6 separate regions of the Homo sapiens genome follow, and regions 2, 3, 4, 5 and 6 are each reported to be linked to region 1. The links are microRNA targets in miRTarBase. Many come from high-throughput screens and were not tested one by one. Region 1 holds a microRNA gene; each other region holds the end of a gene's coding sequence.
What was found. The annotated mature microRNA hsa-miR-6864-3p reads GUGAGACUUCUCUCCCUUCAG and lies in region 1 at 2,362-2,382, shown strand. An mRNA with a match to its seed (bases 2 to 7 or 8) in the 3' UTR can be bound and repressed. Matches are read on the target gene's strand: a 7mer-m8 pairs with bases 2 to 8, a 7mer-A1 pairs with bases 2 to 7 and ends in A, and an 8mer does both.

Region 1 (4,090 bases):
GCTCCTTTTAGACCATGTGACTTGGAAGTCATGAGGCAGCGGAGGTTGAAAATTCTGGCTGGTCCCACAATACAGATGTTGGAAAAAAAAAATTTGGCCGGGCTTGGTGGCTTACGCCTGTAATCCCAGCACTTTGGGTGGCCAGGGCGGGTGGATCACTTCAGGCCAGGAGTTTGAGACCAGCCTGGGCAACATGGCGAAACCCCCTCTCTACAAGAAATACAAAAATTAACTGGGCACTGTGGTATGTGCCTGTAATCCCAGCTGTTTGAGAGGCTGAGACACAAGAATCACTTGAACCCAGGAGGCACAGGCTGCAGTGAGCCGAGACTGCACCACTGCACTCCAGCCTGGGTGACAGACTGAGACTGTCTCAAAAAAAAAAAAAAAAAGACAAAATAGTAAGATTTAAAATATAAAAAGCATTAAAAAATATTCTGGCTGGGTGCGGTGGCTCACCCCTGTAATCCCATCACTTTCAGAGAACGAGGTGGGAGGATCACTTGAGAACAGGGGCTTGAGACCAGTCTGGCCAACATAACAAGACCCCATCTCTACACAAAATAATTTTTTAAAAATAGGCATGGTGGCACACACCTGTAGTTGTAGCTACTTGGGAGGCTGAGGTAGGAGAACCCCTTGAGCCCAGGAATATGAGGTTGCAGTGAGCTGACTGTGCCATTGCATTCCAGCCTGGACAAGAGACCCTGTCTCTATAACAAAAATTCTAGGGAATATCTTCAGTTAGAGCTGGTTTGTAGGAGTTAACCGTTGATCTATGTAGGGACAAGGTTCTAGGAGAACCAAGATGACGGAGGGCAGCTGGGAGTTGTGTGGAGAGGTAAGGCTGGCAAGATGAGGGTATTTGGCAGTGATCTGATGCAGGAAGGAGGCTTGCACATGATAAAGCTAAGAAAGTCTTGTGGAATGAAAGTGAATCTTCAAGTATAGCCTTGTACTTCTCTGATAGAGACTGGGGACATACCTGCTTTAGAGAGACTAATGGAGTAAGTGGGTGGCACTTTAAGTACAAAAAACTTAGGGAACTCCACAAGTAGGTTGTGTTGAGTGTGTCCAGCAGGAAGTGCTGGAGTATAGGCTTCAGGGCTGGAGCAAAGGCCAGACTGGAGCCATTCATCCGGGTAGTAGTTGGCAAGTGTTGGAATGGTTCTTGGAGAGTTGAAAGGGAGCTGGGGGTGGGCACAGCCAAGCCTATGGGGAGCATGTGCTGGTCAGCTGGCATGGGGCAGGCCCAGGTAGGACAGTGGATGGTTGGCCTGAAAGGGTGTCAAGTCCTCCATTTGTTCAGCTTTGAATCCCCACTTGGAGTATCTCCTTTTTATCCTATATTCTCCATAGCATCTCAGCACAGAGGGACCCCCAAGTGGGAGCCCCATCAGTATAAATGAATGAGTCTGGAACAGTGGCCCAGAAAGACAGGGTTAGCAGCACCTGGCAGGGAGAGAAGGAACAAGATAGGAATGGACTGAGGTTACAGCTGGCAGCTGGGGCCCCTAAGGACTCACTCAGCTTCTCCCTTCTTCCAGGTGGACATGATCTCACTAGCCAAGCAGATCATCGAAGCCACACCGGAGCGGATTAAACGAGAGGACTTCGTGGGGCTGCCCGAGGCTGGAGCCTCAATGCGGGAGCGGACAGGGGCTGTGGGGCTCAGTGAGACCATGTCCTGGCTGGCCAGCTACCTGGAGAATGTGGACCATTTCCCCAGCTCAACCCCTCCCAGGTGACTAGCTCAGGACAAAGCCTCCAGATTCTTCAAAGGAAGATGGGAGGAAGGGAGAAAGCTGGCTTTCCCACAGCCAAAGCTCCATTCTGGCTGAGGCCCCAGGGCCTTGGAGAAGCGAACTGAACTGGCTGATGAACTCTGAAGTCACTCTCCAGACTCAGTTGCTGGTGGTTTTCCTTCGTAGCCATCCATAGGTGGCAGAGGAGGGACTTCAGATGCTTCATGACACCCTCTTTCCCTACCGCCTACAGCGAACTGCCCTTTGAGCGAGGTCGCCTGGCTGTCCCTTCAGCACCCTCCTGGGCAGAGTTTCTCTCTGCATCCACCAGTGGCAAGATGGAAAGTGATTTTGCCCTGCTGACACTATCAGATCACGAGCAGCGGGAACTGTATGAGGCTGCCCGAGTCATCCAGACGGCCTTCCGAAAGTACAAGGTCAGGGGCAGGGGTCTCAGGATGAATTACACAATCTCCAGTCAGGGGAGACTGGGCTCCCAGGGCTTTTGGAGGATGAGTAGTCGTGCAGACAGGCCTTGGATGGGGTAAAGGGTCAGGGGAACCCCAGGAAAGTTGAAGGGACAAGTCAGATATGCCATTATGTGGGTCATGAGGTGGTGAGACTTCTCTCCCTTCAGGGCCGGCGGCTGAAGGAGCAGCAGGAGGTAGCAGCAGCTGTAATCCAGCGCTGTTACCGGAAGTACAAGCAGGTGAGACCCTTCTCCCTCAAAAGTGTAACCAGCAACCCACCAACCCACACCCACGCCTAACCATTCCAGAATGTTGCCAGAGCCCTAACTCCCCTTCTCTCTCCACAAGCTGACCTGGATTGCACTTAAGGTATTAGGCATGAGCTCTGAGTGTGAGGTCTGTGATGATTCAGTCTTTCCTTGAGTGTGTGGGTTACAGAGAGTCTTGCATCAGCCTAACTTGGGTGAGCCTCAGGGCTTTGGGTCTCCGTCCCTCTATTTCAGCCCCTGTCCCTCCTCCCCACCCCTGCAGTTTGCACTCTATAAGAAGATGACCCAGGCGGCCATCCTGATCCAGAGCAAGTTCCGAAGCTACTATGAACAGAAGCGATTTCAGCAGAGCCGCCGAGCGGCTGTGCTCATCCAGCAGCACTACCGCTCCTACCGCCGCAGGCCCGGCCCTCCCCACCGGACTTCGGCCACCCTGCCTGCCCGCAACAAGTAGGGCCCAGCCCCAGCCCTCTGTGCCCACCCACTGCATCCACGCCATTCCCCCTTACTCATCCTCTTGATCATCATGCCTCACTGCCATTCCCTGCCTAGGGTTCCTGGGGGGGCCGAAGGCATGCGATGCCTTCTGTGAGGTCCATCTTTTGTTTCTTTCACCAGAGGCTCCTTTCTCACCAAGAAGCAGGACCAGGCAGCCCGGAAGATCATGAGATTCCTGCGGCGCTGCCGACACAGGTACTCATCCCTTCTCCCCCTGGGCTTTTGCGTTGCCACCCGTCGTGATCCGCCAGTCTCCTCTGACTCCTATCTTTCTCTCTGCAGGATGAGGGAACTGAAGCAGAACCAGGAGCTGGAAGGGCTTCCCCAGCCGGGACTGGCCACATGACCTGGCCACCGCCTTTCTCACCACCCTGGGGGCGCCTCGTGCAGTCTTAACAGGGAGAGGGCTTTCTGGGGCAGGGGGAGCCCCTGTCGGCAGCTTTCCTGTTCACCTTTGTTGGAGCCCTCTGTAGGCCTCCTCCCTCCTCCCCACGCCTTGCTCCCACACCCCTCTCCTCGTCCCTCCTGGTCGTGCCCCGTCTCTTTTGGTCCTGGCTCCAGAAAACCCGCGCCCCACATACCTGCATCTTCCGCTGTGACCTCCGGAGCCCTGCCTGCCCCTGCTCCCCAGCTCCTCCTGCCTGCACCCGACTCGGCCCCCTCCTGACTTGCCTTATTTATTTGTTCGACGCGTCTCTGAATGTATCCGCCTCGGTTCCCACCACTGCCTTCGCTGCGCACGCCCCTCGTGTTTCAGGGCTGACCGTGTCCCCACCCGACTCCGCATGTTTGCGTCTGTTTCCTCCCTCTCTGGCCCTGTCTTACCCCATCACCCGACTCTGGCCACTGACCTCAGGGCCGAAGGGGAGGTGGTGTACATAGGAACGCGTTGCGGAGTCCGCCCCGTCCCCCGAGGGGAGGGGTCTTGTACATACTGTAACATACAGAGTATAGTGAAGAATCTATTTAAGGCGCCGCGGGGAGGGCTGCACGGCCGGGCTTGTGGTTCTCTAGCGCGGCGGGGGCCTCCTGCCGGCTCCACGGGCACTTTCTACTTGTGCATGGGCTTGGTTTATACGAATTGCCATTAAACATCGCTGCACCAGCC
Region 2 (4,090 bases), not on the chromosome of region 1:
CCTAAATAGAGAAAAAAAAGAAACCTCATTGGTGTTCCTTGCTAATGACAGAATGAACACTTGGTATTTTTTCTTCTACAAAAGGATGCACTGCACTGTGACCTAAACAAAGTTAACAGATTTTAATTTTGTTATTAACTTAATAACAGACGTGAGCTTCACAGGCTAAAAAGAAAGACTAAACCAACTTGCCAAACTTCATTTTTATATACTTTCCTGATTTTTATGCCCTGATCTATTTTTCTTTCTCTCTTACAATTTTATCTGAGTAATGCCAGAATACTGATTGCAAACAGTTGTAAAAAAATTTTATAAAGGTTCTTTATTCTCTAAGCGTGCACAGCTATTACATGTTTTAATACTTGATCTCATTTTCCAAAAGTAAAATAATTATCTTGGTATAAATCTCTTCCTATCACCAGGATGCTGAGATTTTTATTTTTGTCATCACCAGTATCAAGAAACAAAAGCATACAAAAAGTTTTGCAAAGATAACAGACTTTTTTTTTTTTTGAGATGGAGTCTTGCCCTGTTGCCCAGGCTGGAGTGCAGTGGTGCGATTTTGGCTCACTGCAACCTCTGCCTCCTGGGTTCAAGCGATTCTCCTGCCTCAGCCTCCTGAGTAGCTGGGACTACAGGCACCTGCCACCATGCCCAGCAAATTTTTGTATTTTTAGTAGAGACAGGGTTTCACCATGTTGGCCAGGCTGGTCTTGAACTCCTGACCTTGTGATCCGCCCACCTCGGCCTCCCAAAGAGCTGGGATTATAGGCGTGAGCCACCACAATTGGCCAGGTAACAGACTTTGTAAGAGCCAACTTGAGATACTATATTCACCAATTGAAATGTCCACCTGTTATTTCATTCCAATGATACTGTTCATTTCTCCCATTATATAATATATAACTAATTTCTATGGGTAACATCTAAATATACCAGAATTCTCAAAAGTACTTCTTTCCAATTATTTTATCTAGTGATTTTTAATTCAGTAGGCTATACTCTTTAAATGAGTAATATATTATTCACTAATAGTTGTTTGCTTCTTTTAACAGATAAAATTTAAGTTCCATTCTCTAGACTGTTGCTAGTATTCTCAAAGATTTTTCTCTAAATTCCATATTTTTTTTCTTTTCTTTGAGACAAAGTCTCACTCTGTTGCCCAAGCTGGAGTGCAGTAGCGTGATCTCAGGTCACTGCAACCTCCACCTCCCGGGTTTAAGTGATTCTCCTGCGCTGCTCAGCCTCTCAAGTAGCTGGGACTATAGGCATGTGCCACCATGCCCGGCTAATTTTTGTATTTTTAGTAGAGAAAGGGTTTCACTGTGTTGGCCAGGCTGGTCTTGAACTCCTGACCTTGTGATTCGCCTGCCTCAGCCTCCCAAAGTGCTGGGATTACAGGCATGAGCCACCACACCCGGCCCACATTTTTGGTTTTTACTTTTTGGAAAAAGCAATATAAGAAATAATTCCACTACCTTGTACATCTAGTATTAGTCCAGGTAGGATATCTATTTTATTGTGAACAAAACTTATTTGTACTATAAAGTAAAAACTGCTTATTTCTTCCATCTAAAAAGCAGCATAGTAAAACATCATAAACTTAGGCATTTTTTCTAATTATCTAAGTTTTAGAAAACTTATAAGCATCCAAAATAATTTTCAAATCCAGTATTAAGTAATCTTAAAAATGAAGGCATTTTTACATCAAAATCTCTGGATAAATAACAAAATAAAACTTAGTAGGTTTTGATTTAGAAAAAGTTTCTAAAAAAATCAGTATTTTAAAAACTAAAAATCAATCATGTTAGTTCTGCCGACTTGAAATCTCCTAAAAAACTGTAAGATAAAAAAAAAGATAGCCACGGTGGCACCACGGGTGAAGCACTGGATTGAAACCTCCCATCACCCCAAAAAAGAATAAAATAAATGAATAGATGCCAGTCTCATTTATGCATCATAATTATTGCTACTTAACTTGAGACTTTGTTCAATACAAATTCCTGAAGTCTTAAGAAAAGACACCTTGACATTTAAATATGTTCTATTTTACAATTGTTGTACCAGTTTATTTCAGAGTTATTTACCTAAAACATAGCTATTTTTTCCTTAATAAAACAGAGGATTTTTACTTATTGGAAAGAAAATTCTTCTATAGCTTTTTATTAGCCCTGACTCACATCAAATCAAATCTATTCAAAAGTTTCCCTAAACAGAATCCTTTATTTCTTAAAATTTTTTTACTCACTCAAAAGATTATAAAGAAAAGGGCACTGGATACTGTGGTCAACAGGAAAGCGAAATTGCAAAAGAAAAATTTCTCTAAGATTCAACTGAGAAGACAATTGGATTTAAGGACATCTATGATTTGTGGAACAAAAAAGAATACTATTACTGGAAACAGATCCCTTTAAAGAAAGCCATGTAACCATTCCTTCCTGAAAATGCATTTAACATACAAAGTCTCTGCACAATTTCAGAGGGATTCACAAGTTCTCCCAAACACATGAAATCTCAGATTAATAACACTGGTAGTTGTAAAAGCTCTCTGACCTAACTCAAAAGATAATCTTACAAAAAAATCTAAGTTTAACAATGTCTTTGAATTCCAAATTAAATAAATCAGACTTTTACTTTAAGATCTTAATAATCAACCACAACATTTAACACTATATAATAAAATTAGCTATAATCCTAAAACATGAAATAGAAATTTTTAAATTACTATATATAAATGATTATTTTAAGTTATACATATCTTTTCAATTCATTCATCAATCACACAGATATCCTAAGTAAAAATTCAACATATTTGGGTACTACTAACTCTTAATTATTAGAGTAAAACAGTATTTGCTTAGTGAAGAAAGAGTCAAGAAATTCGGAACTTTGCAAATGCAAATTGTGCTGCAAATGCTACTTAAAAGGCCCAACTGTCAAAATCACAATTAGCACTTTTGCTTAATTATATTATTAAGGAAATACATCTGTAAAATGTATCTCTAGTTCCACTTTTTTCTACTCAATTTTTATTAAGGACAGTAATAGATTTCAGTAACTTCTCATTAGAAACACGCTAAGTAGTAATAGAATTAGCTAATGTACCAGTTTCAATATTCTTATTTTATTCTTACCATGCAAACTTGTAACTTTCACCGAGTTTTGAAAATCCAAGTGTGCAACAGATACCTTTAAAATATTATCCCCAATCAGGAGTTCCATAAATAAATTGATATATTTTCATTACAGTGGTCAGTAAATAGGAAAATGATTACTTAAGAATGTATTTAAAGCCATCTCTCTCAACTGTCCCATTATCTGTACTCTTTTATTAGAAAAATCTTAAATTTTATCATTTGGAATAATAAGAAAATTGAACCTAATGTTCTCATTTTAGTTTGTTTTAAAAATGGATACAATGACCTTTAGGAATGGGCCACAAAATCAAATCAAATGTATTTTCTCAAATACATCTTAGTATAGACCAAGAATTAGTTTATATACCACAGCAAATTGTGGTTATCTGTAAATGATTTTCAGGGATAAAAGCCTTGCAACATTGCAGAGAGTTGAGAGATGTGGTTAAAGTGACAAAGCAATAAATCAGGTTTCAGTAATCATAACAGAAAATGGAAATAACAATCACTTGGAATCTTGAGTATTATATTCAGTTTCTCCAGCTGAAATCTGGCTGAGCCGCTTGCTCGATCCCCAAAATTTTCGAGAAAGCTGACCTGAACGCATCTGTGTAAAGTAATCCAAAGAAATGAAGAATAAATATTAAGAAAAAATTAAAAAAAAGATATGTAAGACACTGATTTTGCAGAGTGAAAAGAAACAAATTGTTAGCAGAATTATTAACACTTTAAAGGTTATCAATAATAGAGAAAGACGGCCAGGTGTGGTGACTCATGCCTGTAATCCCAGCACTTTGGTAGGCCGAGGCAGGTAGATCACTTGAGGCCAGGAGTTTGAGACCAGCCTGGCCAAAATGGCAAACTTCCGTCTCTACTGAAGATACAAAAATTAGCCCAACATGGTGGCGCACGCCTGTAATCCCAGCCACTTGGGAGGCTGAGGCATGAGAATT
Region 3 (4,082 bases), not on the chromosome of region 1:
CAGTGAGCTTGTCTGGTTTGTTCACTGCTACATTCCCACGCCTACATGAGTTTCTGACTCATGGTCAATATGTAATTATTTGTTGAATGAATGAATGACTTCATTTTTATGTGTATAAATTTGGTGACTACTGAATTTATAACAACCTGATGGAAAACAAGTCTGACATGTTTGGAGAAAAATTGATTAGAAATGATCCTAATTCAGCCGGGCATGGTGGCTCACACCTATAATCCCAGCACTTTGGGAGGCCGAGGCAGGTGGATCACCTGAGGACGGGAGTTCAAGACCAGCCTGACCAACATGGTGAAACCCTGTCTCTACTAAAAATACAAAAAATTAGCCGGGCATGGTGGTGCATGCCTGTAATCCCAGCTATTTGGGAGGCTGAGGTAGGAGAATCGCTTGAACCCGGGAGGTGGAGGTTGCAGTGAACCGAGATCGCGCCATTGCACTCCAGCTTGGGCAACAAGAGCGAAACTCCGTCTTGAAAAGAAAATAAAAGGTTCCTAATTCTCCATTTCTAAGAAATACTAACTTTTTTCTTTTCTCTTTCTTTTTTTTTTTTAATTGTTGTGGGTGTTCAATGTAGATCTGAAGAGGAATGATTATACGCCTGATAAAATTATATTTCCTCAGGATGAGCCTTCAGATTTGAATCTTCAGCCTGGAAATTCCACCAAAGAATCAGAATCAACTAATTCTGTTCGTCTGATGTTATAATATTAATATTACTGAATCATTGGTTTTGCCTGCACCTCACAGAAATGTTACTGTGTCACTTTTCCCTCGGGAGGAAATTGTTTGGTAATATAGAAAGGTGTATGCAAGTTGAATTTGCTGACTCCAGCACAGTTAAAAGGTCAATATTCTTTTGACCTGATTAATCAGTCAGAAAGTCCCTATAGGATAGAGCTGGCAGCTGAGAAATTTTAAAGGTAATTGATAATTAGTATTTATAACTTTTTAAAGGGCTCTTTGTATAGCAGAGGATCTCATTTGACTTTGTTTTGATGAGGGTGATGCTCTCTCTTATGTGGTACAATACCATTAACCAAAGGTAGGTGTCCATGCAGATTTTATTGGCAGCTGTTTTATTGCCATTCAACTAGGGAAATGAAGAAATCACGCAGCCTTTTGGTTAAATGGCAGTCAAAATTTTCCTCAGTGTATTTAGTGTGTTCAGTGATGATATCACTGGTTCCCAACTAGATGCTTGTTGGCCACGGGAAGGGAAATGACTTGTTCTAATTCTAGGTTCACAGAGGTATGAGAAGCCTGAACTGAAGACCATTTTCAAGAGGGACGGTATTTATGAATCAGGGTTAGGCTCCATATTTAAAGATAGAGCCAGTTTTTTTTTTTAAATAGAACCCAAATTGTGTAAAAATGTTAATTGGGTTTTTTAAACATTGTTTTATCAAGTCACTGTTAAGTAGAAGAAAGCCATGGTAAACTGATACATAACCTAAATTATAAAAGCAGAAACCTAACTCACTCGTCAAGGGAAGTTACCTTTTGAGGAAAGTTAAAGTACTTTTTTCCCTATCTGTATCTATAGCAACAACCCAGAACTTACAAACTTCTCCAAAGATTTTATTGATTGTTATATCAAATCAGAATGTAAACATGAACTCTTGCATATATTTAAAATTGTGTTGGAACATTTGAACATGAATGCTGTTTGTGGTACTTAAGAAATTAATTCAGTTGGATTATCATTATGTGATACTGGCAGATTGCAGTGCAACCTTATGCCAATAAAATGTAATTTAACAGCCCCAGATATTGTTGAATATTCAACAATAACAAGAAAAGCTTTTCATCTAAGTTTTATGCTTTAATTTTTTTTCTTTTTTTTTCTTTTTCTTTTGTTTCCTTGGTACTAATTTTAATTTTTATTTGGAAGGGAGCAGTATAAAGCTTATTTGTATTTAGTAGTGTATCTCATAGATACAGACAAGGCAAGAGATGATAAGCTGTTTAAATAGTGTTTAATATTGATTGGGGGTGGGGAGAAAGAAAAAGTGTATTACTTAAAGATACTATATACGTTTTGTATATCATTAAATCTTTAAAAGAAATGAAATAAATTTATTGTTTACAGATGTTTAGTGAGTTTAATCATTCTGAAAAATTATCTGACATTTTCAGGGTGTCAATTTGAGTATCAGTTTTTTTAAATGAACCATTTGTATACCTGTGCTTTTGATCTCCTGTCCTGTACAATGTTTAAATTAATACTGATTTCTTACTGTCTTCTTAGAAATCTGTTTTTTGTTAGGCCAAAAAAGGGCAATATGGGCTGTCTGTTGATTTTTAATTTTATATTGATTATTTTCACAGGATTATAATAGTAGCTATACTTTTTTTTTTTTTTTTTTTTTTGAGACGGAGTCTCGCTCTGTTGCTTGGGCTGGAGTGCAGTGGTGCGATCTCAGCTCACCACAACCGCCGCCTTCCGGGTTTAAGTGATTCTCCTGCCTCAGCCTCCCGAGTAGCTGGGACTACAGGCACACGCCACCATGCCCAGCTAATTTTTATATTTTTAGTAGAGACAGGGTTTCACTATGTTGGCCAGTGTGGTCACAAACTCCTGACCTTGTGAGCCACCGCACCTGGCTGCTAACACTTATTTAGTGCCTACTGTGTACCAGACATTACTCTAAGTATTTCACATATATTAACCTACTTAATCCTTATAACAATGTTATAAAGAAATAGGTGTTATTATCCTGTTTTGCAGATTTGAAAGTCAAGGTGCTAGAGAGGTAAAGTAACGTCCATAAGATTCTTACGTTTATTTAATAATAAGTAGCAACGGTAGGATTTGAACCCAGGCTGGCTGCCTTTCATCTATACTGTTTTTGTTTTGTTTTGTTTTGTTTTGTTTTGTTTTGTTTGTCTTGGTGGGGCATGGTGGCTCATGCCTGTAATCCCAGCACTTCGGGAGGCCAAGGCAGGTGGATCACTTGGGCTCAGGAGTTTGAGACCAGCCTGGGCAACATGGCAAAATCCTATCTCTGCTAAAAAAAAAAATACAAAAATTAGGCCAGGTGCAGTGGCTCATGCCTGTAATCCCAGCACTTTGGGAGGCCAAGGTGGGCGGATCACAAGGTCAGGAGTTCGAGACCAGCCTGACCAACATAGTGAAACCCCGTCTCTACTAAAAATACAAAAAATTAGCTGGGCATGGCGGTGAGTGCCTGTAATCCCAGCTACTCAGGAGTCTGAGGCAGGAGAATTGCTTGAACCTGGGAGGTGGAGGTTGCAGTGAGCTGAGATCGTGCCATTGCGCTCCAGCCTGGGCAACAGTGCGAGACTCCGTCAAAAAAAAAAAAATAACTGGATGTGATGGTGTGCACCTGTAGTTCCAGCTACTTGGGAGACTGAGGTGGGAGGATCACTTGAGCCTGGGAGACTGAGGCAGCAGTGAGCTGAGATCATGCCACTGCTTTCCAACCTGGGCAACAGAGTGAGATCCTGTCTCAGAAAGAAAAAAAAAAAAAAGACAACCTCTTGCTCTGTTGCCCAGGCTGGAGTGTAGTAGCGTGATCATAGCTCACTGCAGCCGTAAACTCCTGGGCTCAAGCAATCCTCCTGCCACTGCCTCTTGATTAGGTGGAACCACAGGCATGCACCACCACACGTACCTAATTTTATATATATATTTTTTTATTTTTCATTTTTATTTATTTTTGTTTTTTTGAGTTGAAGTCTCACTCTGTTGCCCAGGCCGGAGTACAGTGGCACAATCTTGGCTCACTGCAACCTCTGCCTCCCAAGATCAAGCAATTCTCGTGCTTCAGCCTCCAAAGTAGCTGAGATTACAGGTACCCACCATAATGCCTGGCTGATTTTTGTATTTTTCGTAGAGACAAGGTTTCACCTTGTTGGCCAGGCTGATCTCAAACTCCTGACCTCAAGTGATCCACCTCCCCCGGCTACCCAAAGTACTGGGATTATAGGTGTGAGCCACCATGCCTGGGTAACACCCAACTAATTTTAAATATATATTTTGTAGAGATGGGGTCTAGCCTTGTTGCCCACGCTGGTCTCAAATTCCTGGGCTCAAGTGATCC
Region 4 (4,090 bases), not on the chromosome of region 1:
AACAAAGTGTTTATAGGTTTTCTGTGTGTGCTGAAGGAAAGAATAAGGTGAAAGACTTTTACTGTAAGTCTTAGTGGTTTGGCTGATTTTTTTATCTACCTAATACTTGCTTTTTTTTCTTTCCATAGCATTATAGCCTTCAGAAAGGCCAACAAAGTGGGTATTTTCATCAAAGTTACACCACAGCGTGAGGAGGGTGAAGTGACCGTGTGCTTCAAGATGAAGCATGATTTTAAAAACCTGGCAGCCCCCATTCGCCCCATTGAAGAAAGTGACCAGGGAACAGAAGTCATCTGGCTCACCCAGCATGTGGAACTTAGCTTGGGCCCACTTCTTCCTTAAAAGGTTCCACTGGAGGGCAGATCCCAAAGGACAGTATCACCGTAAACCTGCGTTAAAATGTGGAAGCTGCTGCTTCATTAGGCCTTGTTTATAACGATGTACCCATGCACTACGGAATTCTATTGCTAAGAAAGTGGGAGCATAGGCAAGGCATTGGGAACACAGGGTAGCTGCTGTTGCTCTTGCTCTCACCCCTGTTGACACCAGTAAGTCTGTGTCTCCCTCACTGAACCCTGCACGTTGAGTAACAGCAGCATAATTCCATCCTAGGAAAGGGGATGGGTGTTCCTTGGAATGGCATTGTATTTACCACCTGAGAAACTCTGTACTGTCTCTTGATCTGATCTCACTAAGGATCACAATGTCACAGATGAAACTTAAATGATAACCCAAAGGTAGACCTGCTGTTAATGATCCAGCATTGGTCACAATGTACCAACTGCTTTCTGCATTCCGTTAAATATCATCTAACAGTCTAAAACATATCCCTTCATTGCCATAATGGCTGCCATTTTGCCATAGATTTCCATATAACTGAAAAACTGAATTGTCACTTTATCTTTAGTATCATGATGATTGGAAAAACCTGTGAAGTTGTTAAGGCACTCTCATTTGCCCTCTTTTTCTAAGTGAATACAGGACACGTATTAGTTGTTCTTAATTTTTTTCCCAGTAAAATATGGATCTTTTAAGAAGAATTTGAGAAGCAAACAATTACATGTCATGTCAAGGGGGTAGCAGATTCCATTCGTTTTCAATATTGCCACAATACCCAGGGATTAATGCTGCCACAGGGGGGCAATCTTTATTTGTCTTACTTCCTACCCCTTCCCTGTTCTGCCTCTTTAACTCAGTTAAGTTGTTCTGTTTGGGACCTGGAAAAGAACCCAAAGAAAACCTGAGTGGACAGGTTCATTTCTGGAATGCAGAAAACATTTTAAAGGCTAGATTTTTAGAATATTCTCAACTAGCATTCTTTCCATTGATTTGAAGGGGAAATTAACTATTATAATCTCTTGAATCCAAAACTGGATATTAAGAACTTTCCCCCTTACTAAGTTTAAGACTTTTGTCATGTGGTGAGTCAAATAAGACCATTTTGATTGTAAACCATAAAATAGTTCAGCAAGTAGCCCACAGTTCTGGCCTAACAGCAGACTTGCTGTTTTCACTTGGTATCCTGGAGTTGGGTTGCTAACCTTAATTTCTATGATGTTTTCTAAAATGAAACTTGATAAAGTAGACCACCAGCTGCACCGTGTTTTCTGTAAAAGTATTGTTAGTAAGTGGCCAAGAGACTTGAGGAAAATACAGATTTTTTGTTTACCTTGGTCTTGTTTTAAGTCTTAAAAAATTAAAGATAACATTATAATGTAGAATACAGATGGGACATAGTCCTTGTAAGCTTCCCTTGAAAATGTTTTAAATATTTAGGAAGCTTTTAAAAGACACTAAATTGTACTCTAAAAGACACTAAATTGTACTAATTGTACAAAGGTCAAGCCAATTTTATGAAACAGTCCTACAGAGTAATATATGTGATGCAGTGTAAGAAGGAAAATACTCATCTCTAACATTATGGTAATAACATTTAGCCTCTTAGGAGTTGGAGCAGGGGGATGGGTAATTACAGATTTGCAGACTATAGAAAGAGTTTCATTTTTTTGTGACCCCACAGAGTCTCAAATTTTTATTTCACTACCTGCTAGAGCCTACTGTGAAATCACTGCTCCATATTTGCCAGTGGAGGAAATGGGCATAGAGTAGAGAATAGCTTCATATGTTTACACGTTTGCATAGACTACACACATGTCATGCGTTTATGGCAGGTAGCTGGTATTTATTCCCCAAAGTAATAATGTTGAAGTATGGGTCTCATCATTCCCATACACAGAAACACAAAACACTTTGATCATAAACTTTTTTCTTCAGAAGCCAAACTAACTTGCAGAATAATAGAGCCACTGGTTTAATGTTTCCTCAAGATAGGTTTTAGTGTAAGCTAGTATTCTGTGTGTTCGTAGAAATGATTCAATACCTGCAGCTGGTGAATTAGGAATTGTATTTGTTGCCTTTTTTATATTAGATGAGGTGCAAAAATTTTAATGCTAGTCAGTATGCACCACCACAGGAAAGTTAGATCCCATTAGCACTTGAAACTACAGCTTTGGAAACTTAGGCTAAGTTAATTTGGATTTGTTACTTGATTCACCTACTGACCTTTTCTTTTGTTTGAAGTGCTTATCAGCATAATGAGCTAAGTGTCATGCATATTTGTGAAGAAACACCCTTTTTGGTCCCTTTTGGGACAGAGAGGTACTCCTTGATCTTTATGAATGACAGGTTACTGTTTTGCCTTATTGCTTAACTTAATGTAGTGAAATAAAGCAGACAAAGCTTGAGCGTGTCTTTTGTTTGCTCTCATGTAGATACTAAGTAGCATGGCTCAGAGCCAAAAGACAAGCGTGAAGTTAAGAGAGTTGGCTAAGAGAGTTGGTGGGGCATGCTCCCTTCCATTCCTTAAATGAAGTAATCTAAAATCTCTTAGCAGGTTAGTTCACCATAATATATAAGTAGATGTTGCTTTGAGCTTCTTATATACATATTCACAGAACCATTATATAAATGTTGTTAGACCTCTACCAGTTTTTATCCTGGGTCATTGCTTCTAAAGATATCCTTTACAATATACACAGTGGTCTGACTCCACCAGTGGCCACTCATCACCTTCATCTGTACCTTCATAACTGTTCCTTCCCTCCTCTTACTTAGATGAATTATTCATACTCTTCCTGTTGGAACCCAGCCCCACCTCTTAACACTGAAGCTCATCCTCTTACCTATTCACAGATAGCATCGGCAGCTCCCTCCTTCCCTTTTCCATTAGCATGTGATTTCTCTCATCTTAAAAAAGAAATTGGCCTCACTCTCCTCTTCAGCTGCCACTCCATTTCTCCACTCCCTGTACAGCAAAACTCCTCTAACTCTGACTGGGCATGATCGCTCACACCTGTAATCCCAGCGCTTTAGGAGGCCGAGGTGAGAGGATGATTTGAGGCCAGGAGTTTGAGACAAGACTGGAAAACCTAACAAGACCTTGTCTCTGTTTAAGTAAAAGTTTTTTAAAAAACAAAAATGGCCAGGTGCGGTGGCTCACACCTGTAATCCCAGCACTTTGGGAGGCTGAGGCGGGCAGATCACGAGGTCAGGAGATCGAGACCATCCTGGCTAACAAGGTGAAATCCCGTCTCTACTAAAAATAATAAAAAAAATTAGCCGGGCCTGGTGGCAGGTGCCTGTAGTCCCAGCTACTCTCGAGGCTGAGGCAGGAGAATGGCGTGAACCTGGGAGGCGGAGCTTGCAGTGAGCCAAGATCACGCCACGGCACTCCAGCCTGGGCAGCAGAGCGAGACTCCGTCTCAAGGGAAAAAAAAAAAAAAAAACCCTAATTCAACCTTCCAGTTCCTCCATTCTCACCTGAACCCATTCCAGTTAGACTCTCACCGCCACCACTTGGTCGAAACTGCTCTTGTCAAGGTCACCAGCAATCACCACACTTAAATACAGGGTCAGTTCTCAGTCCTTAACTATGCAATTTTTCAGTAGATCTGACAGTTTATCTCTCCCTTCTTGAAAGGCTTTGCTTGGTTTCCAGAACACAACACTCCTGGTTTTGAGGCAGAGCAGGGACCCCCTTTTAGGAGGCTTGTGGGCCCCTCCATGCATGGAAATAAAGGGAAATCTTGAG
Region 5 (4,090 bases), not on the chromosome of region 1:
CTTTATTTGAGGAGACATGATGCAACTGAGTCTAGAAGGGTTTTTCATGCTTTAGTTCTTACTGTAGGCTTTCAGTGCTCACCGCTGGATATTAATAACTAAACAAGTAGAATTTTGAAATTCTTTTTTTTGTCTCTGCCTCACTGGGTTGCAAAGTGAACCACAAAATTAATATGTACTCGTTATAACAAGCCAAACAATGCAGAGATATCTAAAGAAAAAGTTAGTAGCCTCTTTCTACCAATGAATGCTGGATTATTCAACATGCAGATCAAGCTTGTACTCAGGATACCTACAAAAATCAGGAGACTCCTAAATGTTTTTGAAAGAATGCTATATTTGATATTTCAGAAGAAGAATTGGACAAGTGATAATGGGAGACATCAGGAATCTTTAGACTTCCTTATATTTATTTTGTGTTTTAGTATTTTTTTGTTTTTGAGACAAGGTCTCACTCACTCTGTTGCCCAGGTTGGAGTGCAGCAGCACAATCACGGCTCACTGCAGGCTCAATTCCCCAGGCTCAAGTGATCCTCCCACCTCAGTTTTCCTGGTAGCTATGACTACGGGTGTGCACCACCATGCCTGGCTAACATTTTTTGGTATTTTTTATGGAGACGGTTTTACCATTTCGCCCAGGCTGGTCTCAAACTCCTGGGCTCAAGTGATCTTCCCACCTTGGCCTCCCAAGTGCTGAGATTACAAGTGTGAGCCATCATGTCCAGCCATGTTTTAGAATTTTCATGTAATTATATATTGTGGATTGGTTGACAGGAGAACGAGTATGTACAAATAAGGATATATGTCAAGATTATATTTTGTTCATGAAGTATATGTATATACAACTTTACATAATTTTTATTTTAGAATTATTCTTACATCTTAAAATTTCACTTATTTTGTAAATATTTCCATATTCATAAAAAGCTATTGTGCTTATATAATCCTTATATTCTATTTTATTTACTAATAAGCTATCTTGCTTGTCCATTCTTCCACTGTTAAATATTTTCTTAATTTCCTACTAATATGAAATTTACATCTATATTTTTATTTCTGTATATAACTATTTTCTTTTTTAAAAATGATTTTCTTGGGATAAATCACTAGAGTGATATTGCATGAAAACTCATGAATATTGTATATCTCTTTGTAGCTATGACCAGATTGCTCACACAAAGGATTTTATAGGTTCACAAAGGGTAAACTGTATGCATTCTGGCTTTAGAAGTGGTTTGGAGGAGGATGAGATGGTAGCAGGAGAGGCTGGATGTAAGAAAGGGAACAGGAAGTGGGTGATTGCCCTTATCCTGGCAAGAGATGTATCTCAACTACAAAGGTGACAATCGGTATACAGGAAAAAAGTGAATATGATAAATATATAGGAGGTGAATTCAGCAGGCTTGATGAGTAATTGGATATAGGGAGGTAGAAATTGGATATGGGGAGGAAGATTGGAGGATGAGTCACTGTTTTTTTTGCATTTGAGGACTGGATGGAGTAGAACAGGTTTGGGAGAGTGGAGAACACTAAGCATACCATGTACTATATCCCCAAATCCAACACAATGGCTACCACAAGGAAGGCATTCAATAAATGTTAATTGAATAAGTGCTTCATGCATACATGTATATATGAAGGCTGCAAACAATGAATCAATGTTTCTATTTTCCAAAGCCTCCCACGTCTTCGGTTGTATATCTAGAAGCTGACTTACTGTTTTTATCTCTTCAATAGGATATCTTAAATTCAGCACTCCTGATAACAAGAAAGTGAAAAGATTAAGAAGGAAATTGTGGGCCTGGCATGGTAGCTCATGCCTGTAATCCCAGCACTTTTGGAGGCCGAGGCAGGAGGATCCCTTGAGGCCAGGCATTTGAGACCAGCCTGGGCAACACAGTGAGACTCTTTCTCTACAAAAATAAAAATTAAAGAAAAATTAGGCAGGTGTGATGGTGCACTCCTGTAGTCACAGCTACTCGGGAGGCTGAGGAAGGAGGATCACTTGAGCCCAGGAGTTCAAGGCTGGCTGCAGTGAGCTACTGTTGTGCCACTGCATTACAGACTGGGTGACAGAGTGAGACCCTATATCCAAAAAAAAAAAGGAAAGGCAAGAAGAAAGAAAGAAGTGTGAAAAGAAAGAGAGTGCAAAGCCAAAGCTCAGGACTTCGGAACAACCAGACCCACCTCATAAAATTAGCCAATTACTTCCCACAGTCAGCCTTTTGCTAAGTTATGTAGATTTAGCTATTCCTTAGAAAGTTGGCGAATGAACCTGAACTCAGGCTGCTAAAAAGTCAATATCCCTGAATCAGAAGGAAGAGATGGTTCCATTCAGCTCACCTCATGACTAGTGAGAGATAGGGCAAATAGCTCCCTAAAGCTCTCTGCTCTGAGTTGCAGTCCTTTCAGAGTGACCAGGTCCCACCACAGGTGTTTGGAGCTAAAAGGTTCTGCTGGGAGACTCCCCAAGCAGCTTTCCTGTCTCCAGCTGCACTTTGGATACTATGCATCTTGGTTGTGTGGCTGTGACTCCTGCTTAGTGATTATGTTCTTGTATAGAGTATTGTCAGTTTGGGTTGCTGTATTTTCCTGTATTTGTCCTGTATCTCCTAGAGGGCAAAAGCCATAATTGCTATTTCCTTTGTAACTCCCAAAGAGTTAGGCATAACATTTAGCATAAAATGAGGACTCAATTACTACTGATGGTTGCCCAATTGTAATTGGTAAATTGGCAAAAAGTGGTGGTTTTTAATGGTCAATAAAGGTACCATGTATCTAGTCTTAGGAAACAAAAGGTTTATTGAAATGCATGTAGATAAATTATCATCAGCATAAAACTGTTATGGAGTTTTCAACATGGGGTCTTTTGCTCTTAAAATGAAGTGAAGCTTTGCAAGTCCATTGTCCAATAGGAAAAATATTATATCTCTCTGTTCAGATAAAGTCCTTTAAAAAAGTAAATCTCTTTTGAAACGGTCTTTTAAACGTCTCCAGCCTGTGAATATATAACAAAACAAAAACCATATTAAAAAGACATAATTTTCTCCATTTAAAAAGAAGAATTAAATAGGAATGATTTAGGGGTAATAAACAAGGAAAATACCTGGGAATTTGAAACTCTAAAATGTTCTCCTATTTTATTAAGTACATACTAAAATATTTGATATAATGAAAATAATTTACGAAGACAAAATAAATGACAAGTGGTCATAAAAATGCAAATAAAGTCAATCATTTTATTATTATATATTTAGGAACAAAGTTGAAATGTTATCTCCTCAAATAAACAATTTTTAAATAACTCTGATATCAGTAATTTGGAAATACAGTCCTAAATGAGTTTTAATTTCCATTGAAGGCTAAATGTCCTTAATAGAAGACTTGAAATCAATAAATATAGTAAGAGAAAAAAGGAAGAAACTTTCAGAGAATTTCTGAAACTTTGTGGGTCAATAGAAGTTAGCAGTTAATTTTCTACAAATCATCCTCAGGGTAAAGTGAGTCATATTCTGTTTCCGCAGGGTGCTCTGGTCTGACCTGTTTGGCTCCCCCCAGGTGGTGTTGCTGTCCTTCTCCAATTGTGAGTCTGTTGAATGGGATTATCTTCATAGTGGTTTTCTTCATGGAATACCACCGGGTTTTCCAAGTGGCCCAAATAATGCCATTATCATAACCATTAGGAGTAGATGCTTTTGAGTAAGTGCCACCTAAAACAAGTCGTAGATGTACATATCATTATTCTGGAATCTTTTTACCTCTGCAAGTCTATGAAGAGCTGTCTATTACGAAGTGCATTGCCAGTTACATAAAATTTATAGTATTATCTGCTAACTGAAAATATCTCCAAAGATTCCTAAAATATCAATTTATAAAATAAACATATTATTAAACAACATCTGTGCTGTGACTCATAGTCACATCCACACTTTAAATTTATTCACTACTAGTAGGGCTAGAAACCCAAAGTTCCCTAATTGGCCTCTGTCCCTAAGCTTATCCATCCCGGACTCAGCTGCTGTGGACCATCTTTCTTCAGGCAGGTTAGAAGAGAAGGAGCCACAAAATTCCTGATGAGGTCAACTCAGGT
Region 6 (4,090 bases), not on the chromosome of region 1:
AGGTGTAACAGCCCAGATACTAAAAGATTCTCCCAAATAGAAGGACCCCAGGTGTTCTGATCTCTTCTCCAGGTTTCTCTGGCTCCTCGGGAATAACCACCACAGTGCCTTATATATCCTTGCTTGCTTTCGTGTCTTCCAGAATGCCAGGATCAAGGGGACAGAGATATTAGCACAGCTTTGTTGACTACACCTATTAGAGGGAGTTACACAGAGGAAAATACTTACTGAATATTAGGACTCACACAGACACATACACAAAAGGGTTTTACAAAAACATCATCATAGACCCACATATACTTGTCCTTCAAAAAGTGAATGTTCTCACTCCCATTCCTGTAGCAGAGATACCCCTTAGTTCCCCAATACCTATCACAAAAGATGGCTCCTTGAGCCCATTCTGACAGTGAAGGAATCTCGAACTTCCTGACCTCCCACAGTACAATAATCATCTCTCTACAAAAGCACAACATGGCAGCTCAAGAATGTGAAAGGACCTGAAATGGGTTGAGTAATAATGTTCCAACCCCTCATACTACCATAAATGTTCCTGGTGAGAGAAGCGAATGTTCCTGGTGAGAGAAGCGAAGGTGTGCATCTCCTGGCTCAGCCACCAGGTCCTCCACTGCATCTCCACAGTAGCCGTCACTTCCACTGAGGCCTCATCTGCCAGCAAACCTTGCTCCAGTCGGCCTCTGGACCCTAGTATCTTCACCGTGGTTTTGGATGCTGCCACCTGACCCATCCCTGCTGTTGGGGGAGGGTGGAGGCCAGAGGCCTAAAGAGTTCCGACCCGAGCGACACAAAGATCACTTCTGGGACCCACCCAGGGAGACTGTTGTTACGAGGGTGGATGGTGACCTGGTTTCCCTCAATGCTGCCACCTCCCTTCTAAAACACACTGACTTGCTAAGAAAAGGGGGGACTGACTCCAACAAAGGACAGACCCGACCCCTATCGTGCCTATGCAATTCAGAAAACGGAGAATTCGGAGGCTCCAGCAAGCAGTTTATTGGGAGTTGAGTTCACCTTGCCTTGTGATGTGAAGCAAGGTAGTTCCATGGCTTGTGAACCCTGACACCAGCACCTCCCATACACAACAGAGCTGGAGCGCTGCAGGGTGGGTCCTTTTCCAAGAAGAGCTAAGTGCTAGTCTTAGCGGGAGGCTAGGAAACCAGTCCTGGAGCAGGATGCATGTGACATGCACTGACGTGAGAAGGCCGGAGCATCATCAGTGCATATGCCGCTGAATATCTCAGGGTAGAATGTGCCAGAAAACAGGGAAAGCAAGTTAGGGGAGGTAAGAATTCTGAGTGTCCTACAGCTAAGACATGGCAGAGTGTGTCTGTGACTCCACTAGCAGTTTTGAGATTATTCTGACTGTGGTGGTTGGTGCAGGGCTGGTAACCGCAGGAGAGTGGATGCTGTGTGGTCAAGGGGTGTGTGTCCCATGATACAGGCTCTGCTTCTTCAGTCTCTCACCTCAGAGCCACCTGCGGTTGCCACAGAGAAATTCAGATGTGAATGTTTAAACAAGTGTCCAAAGTGTAGGTTTGAGATGGGAAATGGAGCTGGAGATGACCTCAAAACAGCCCTGGAATAATGCAATGCTGACAATGTCTGTGAATTAGGATGTGCATAGGCAGATCCCACTTGGGGAAAAACTGTAAGATGCGAACCTTTGTCTTAGAAGTACAGCATTCCCACAGTCTGACCCGAGGACACTGATGGAAACTTAAAAGGCAGATTCTGGGAGTCTTCTCACTTCTCTCCAGTCATGTGTGAGAGCTGAGGGCAGGCACTGCCCTAGAGGGTGTTTCCTAACTTCTGACTGGATGCCACAAAAGGCCTGCTGGGGCCCAAGTCCTTCTTCCCCATTCCTTTAATTCTTCCTACGAAGAATCTCGACAATGGTTGCAGATGTCATTGAAGATGTTCCCATATTGCTTACATTTAAGAAGGTGGCTCTCCAGTGTGGGTGGTTTCATGGTTTTAAAATGAACTGGAGGCCGGGCGCGGTGGCTCACGCCTATAATCCCAGCACTTTGGGAGGCCGAGGAGGGCGGATCACGAGGTCAGGAGATCAAGACTATCCTGGCTAACACGGTGAAACCCCGTCTCCACTAAAAATACAAAAAATGAGCCGGGCGTGGTGGCGGGCGCCTGTAGTCCCAGCTACTCGGGAGGCTGAGGCAGGAGAATGGCGTGAACCCAGGAGGCGGAGCTTGCAGTGAGCTGAGATCGCGCCACTGCACTCCAGCCTGGGCAAGGACTCCGTCTCAAAAAAAAAAAAAAAGAACTGGGGGCCGGGTGTGGTGGCTCACGCCTGTAATCCCAGCACTTTGGGAGGCCAAGGCAGGTGGATTACCTGAGGTCAGGAGTTCAAGACCAGCCTGGCCAACATGGTGAAACCCCGTCTCTACTAAAAATATAAAAATTAGTTGGGCGTGGTGGCATGTGCCTGTAATGCCAGCTACTAGGGGGCCTGAGGCAGGATTGCTTTGACCTGGGAGGCAGAGGTTGCGCCACTTTCACTCCAGCCTAGGCAACAGAGTAAGACTCCAGCTCAAAAAAAAAAAAAAAAAAAAGTAAAACGAACAATTTGGGAGGCCAAGGTGGGTGGATCATTTGAGGTCAAGAGTTTAAGATCAGCCTGGTCAACATGGTGAAACACTGTCTCTACTAAAAATATAAAAATTAGCTGGGCATGGTGGTGGGCACTTGTAATCCCAGCTACTTGGAAGGCTGAGGCAGAAGAATTGCTTGAACCCAGAGGTTACAGTGAGCCAGGATCACACCACTGCACTCCAGCCTGGGGCAACAGAGTGAGACACCATCTTGGGGTGCGGCGGGGAAAAAAAGGTTGGGTGCTGTGGCTCACACCTGTAATCCCAGCACTTTGGGAGGCCGAGGCAGGCAGATCACCTGAGGTCAGGAGTTTGAGACCAGCCTGACCAACATGGAGAAACCCCATCTCTACTAAAATTACAAAATTAGCCAGGCGTGGTGGCGCATGCCTGTAATCCCAGCTTCTTGGGAGGCTGCGGCAGGAGAATTGCTTGAATCCGGGAGGCGGAGGTTGCGGTGAGCCGCGATCGCACCACTGCACTCCAGCCTGGGCAACAAGAGCAAAATTACATCTCAACAAAAACAAAAACAAAAAACAAACCCCACAAAAGATGGGATGGATATAGAATTTTCTTTATAGTTTCTCTCCAGTATATATTCTCAGGTGTCTTTAAAAGATTACGTGAAGTGAAGGCTTTCCTACACTCCATACATTCGTAGCTTTTCTGTCCATGGAGTCCATTCACATATCTGCAATCCCGCAGGAGAGTGCAAGTTCCTCCCCCATTTGTTAAATATTTCATTGCCGCATGAGTCACGTCTTCAAAGGGAATTAGGACAACTGAAGGCTTAATCACACCGTTTACATTCCTTGAATTTCTCTCCAGCGTAAGTACTCTCATACATCCAAAAGGAACTAATACAACTGACAGCATTACCACACTTTACTTTCTTAGGGCTTCTGTCTACTATGAGTCCTTTCGTGCACGTGCAAAGACTTTGAGTAACTGAAGGCTTTACCACATTGTCTACACTGAAAGGGTCTTTCTCCAGTATGAATTCTTTTGTGTACTTTCAGGGAATTTAAACAAGTGAAAGCTTTGCCACACTGCTTACACTCACATGGTTTCACTCCAGTGTGACTTCTTTCGTGCCTTCGAAGGTGACTGAAGTAAATGAAGACCCGACCACACTGTTTGCATTCATAGGGTTTCTCTCTAGTATGGGTTCTTTCATGGATTCGAAAGTGAGTGGAATAAAGAAAGGCTTTACCACATTCTTTACATTCGTAAGTTTTCTCGCCAGTGTGAACTCTTTCGTGCAACTGAAGGTAACTTGAAGAATTGAAGGCTTTACCACATTGTTTACATTCATAGGGTTTTTCTCCAAAATGAGTTCTTTCGTGCACTTCACAGGAACTAGATGACTTGAAGGCTTCCCCACATTTCTTACATGTATAAGGTTGAACTCCGGTGTGGGTTTTCACGTGTTTTCGAAGGCTTGAGTGAGAAAAGAAGGCTCT

Region 2: miRTarBase lists NBEAL1 as a target of hsa-miR-6864-3p. Seed matches in the 3' UTR shown: 8mer at 1,979-1,986 and 7mer-A1 at 1,138-1,144.
Region 3: the mRNA of TRPM7 is a reported target of hsa-miR-6864-3p. Seed matches in the 3' UTR shown: 7mer-m8 at 3,716-3,722 and 7mer-A1 at 4,055-4,061.
Region 4: miRTarBase lists DCTN4 as a target of hsa-miR-6864-3p. Seed matches in the 3' UTR shown: 8mer at 2,021-2,028.
Region 5: miRTarBase lists FGG as a target of hsa-miR-6864-3p. The part of its 3' UTR that is shown has no 7-base or 8-base seed match.
Region 6: miRTarBase lists ZNF490 as a target of hsa-miR-6864-3p. Seed matches in the 3' UTR shown: 7mer-A1 at 2,940-2,946.

The regions. Positions count from the first base shown.
Region 1 is chr17:4,967,994-4,972,083 of GRCh38, reverse strand. MIR6864 (microRNA 6864) reads left to right here and starts at 2,313; the gene lies at 2,313-2,382. CAMTA2 (calmodulin binding transcription activator 2) reads left to right here. Exons shown (of 23, transcript NM_015099.4): 17 at 1,548-1,744; 18 at 1,999-2,182; 19 at 2,383-2,454; 20 at 2,564-2,584; 21 at 2,747-2,934; 22 at 3,103-3,177; 23 at 3,265-4,087. The coding sequence ends at 3,328. It overlaps MIR6865 (microRNA 6865), which reads left to right and starts at 1,934; the gene lies at 1,934-1,998. RefSeq lists enhancers at 2,513-3,189, 2,023-3,222, 3,190-3,867, 3,868-4,090 and a silencer at 4,042-4,090.
Region 2 is chr2:203,216,907-203,220,996 of GRCh38, reverse strand. NBEAL1 (neurobeachin like 1) reads right to left here. Exons shown (of 56, transcript NM_001378026.1): 56 at 1-3,744. The coding sequence ends at 3,643. Among named protein-coding and RNA genes, the nearest start is that of CYP20A1, 20 kb to the left of the region's middle.
Region 3 is chr15:50,558,319-50,562,400 of GRCh38, reverse strand. It overlaps TRPM7 (transient receptor potential cation channel subfamily M member 7), which reads left to right. Exons shown (of 39, transcript NM_017672.6): 39 at 593-4,082. The coding sequence ends at 723. Among named protein-coding and RNA genes, the nearest start is that of USP50, 14 kb to the right of the region's middle.
Region 4 is chr5:150,707,401-150,711,490 of GRCh38, reverse strand. It overlaps DCTN4 (dynactin subunit 4), which reads left to right. Exons shown (of 13, transcript NM_016221.4): 13 at 129-3,051. The coding sequence ends at 342. Among named protein-coding and RNA genes, the nearest start is that of RBM22, 8.4 kb to the right of the region's middle.
Region 5 is chr4:154,601,357-154,605,446 of GRCh38, forward strand. It overlaps FGG (fibrinogen gamma chain), which reads right to left. Exons shown (of 9, transcript NM_021870.3): 9 at 2,815-3,710. The coding sequence ends at 3,478. Among named protein-coding and RNA genes, the nearest start is that of FGG, 9.3 kb to the right of the region's middle.
Region 6 is chr19:12,576,965-12,581,054 of GRCh38, forward strand. It overlaps ZNF490 (zinc finger protein 490), which reads right to left. Exons shown (of 5, transcript NM_020714.3): 5 at 1-4,090. The coding sequence ends at 3,521. Among named protein-coding and RNA genes, the nearest start is that of LINC02926, 27 kb to the left of the region's middle. RefSeq lists an enhancer at 2,960-4,090.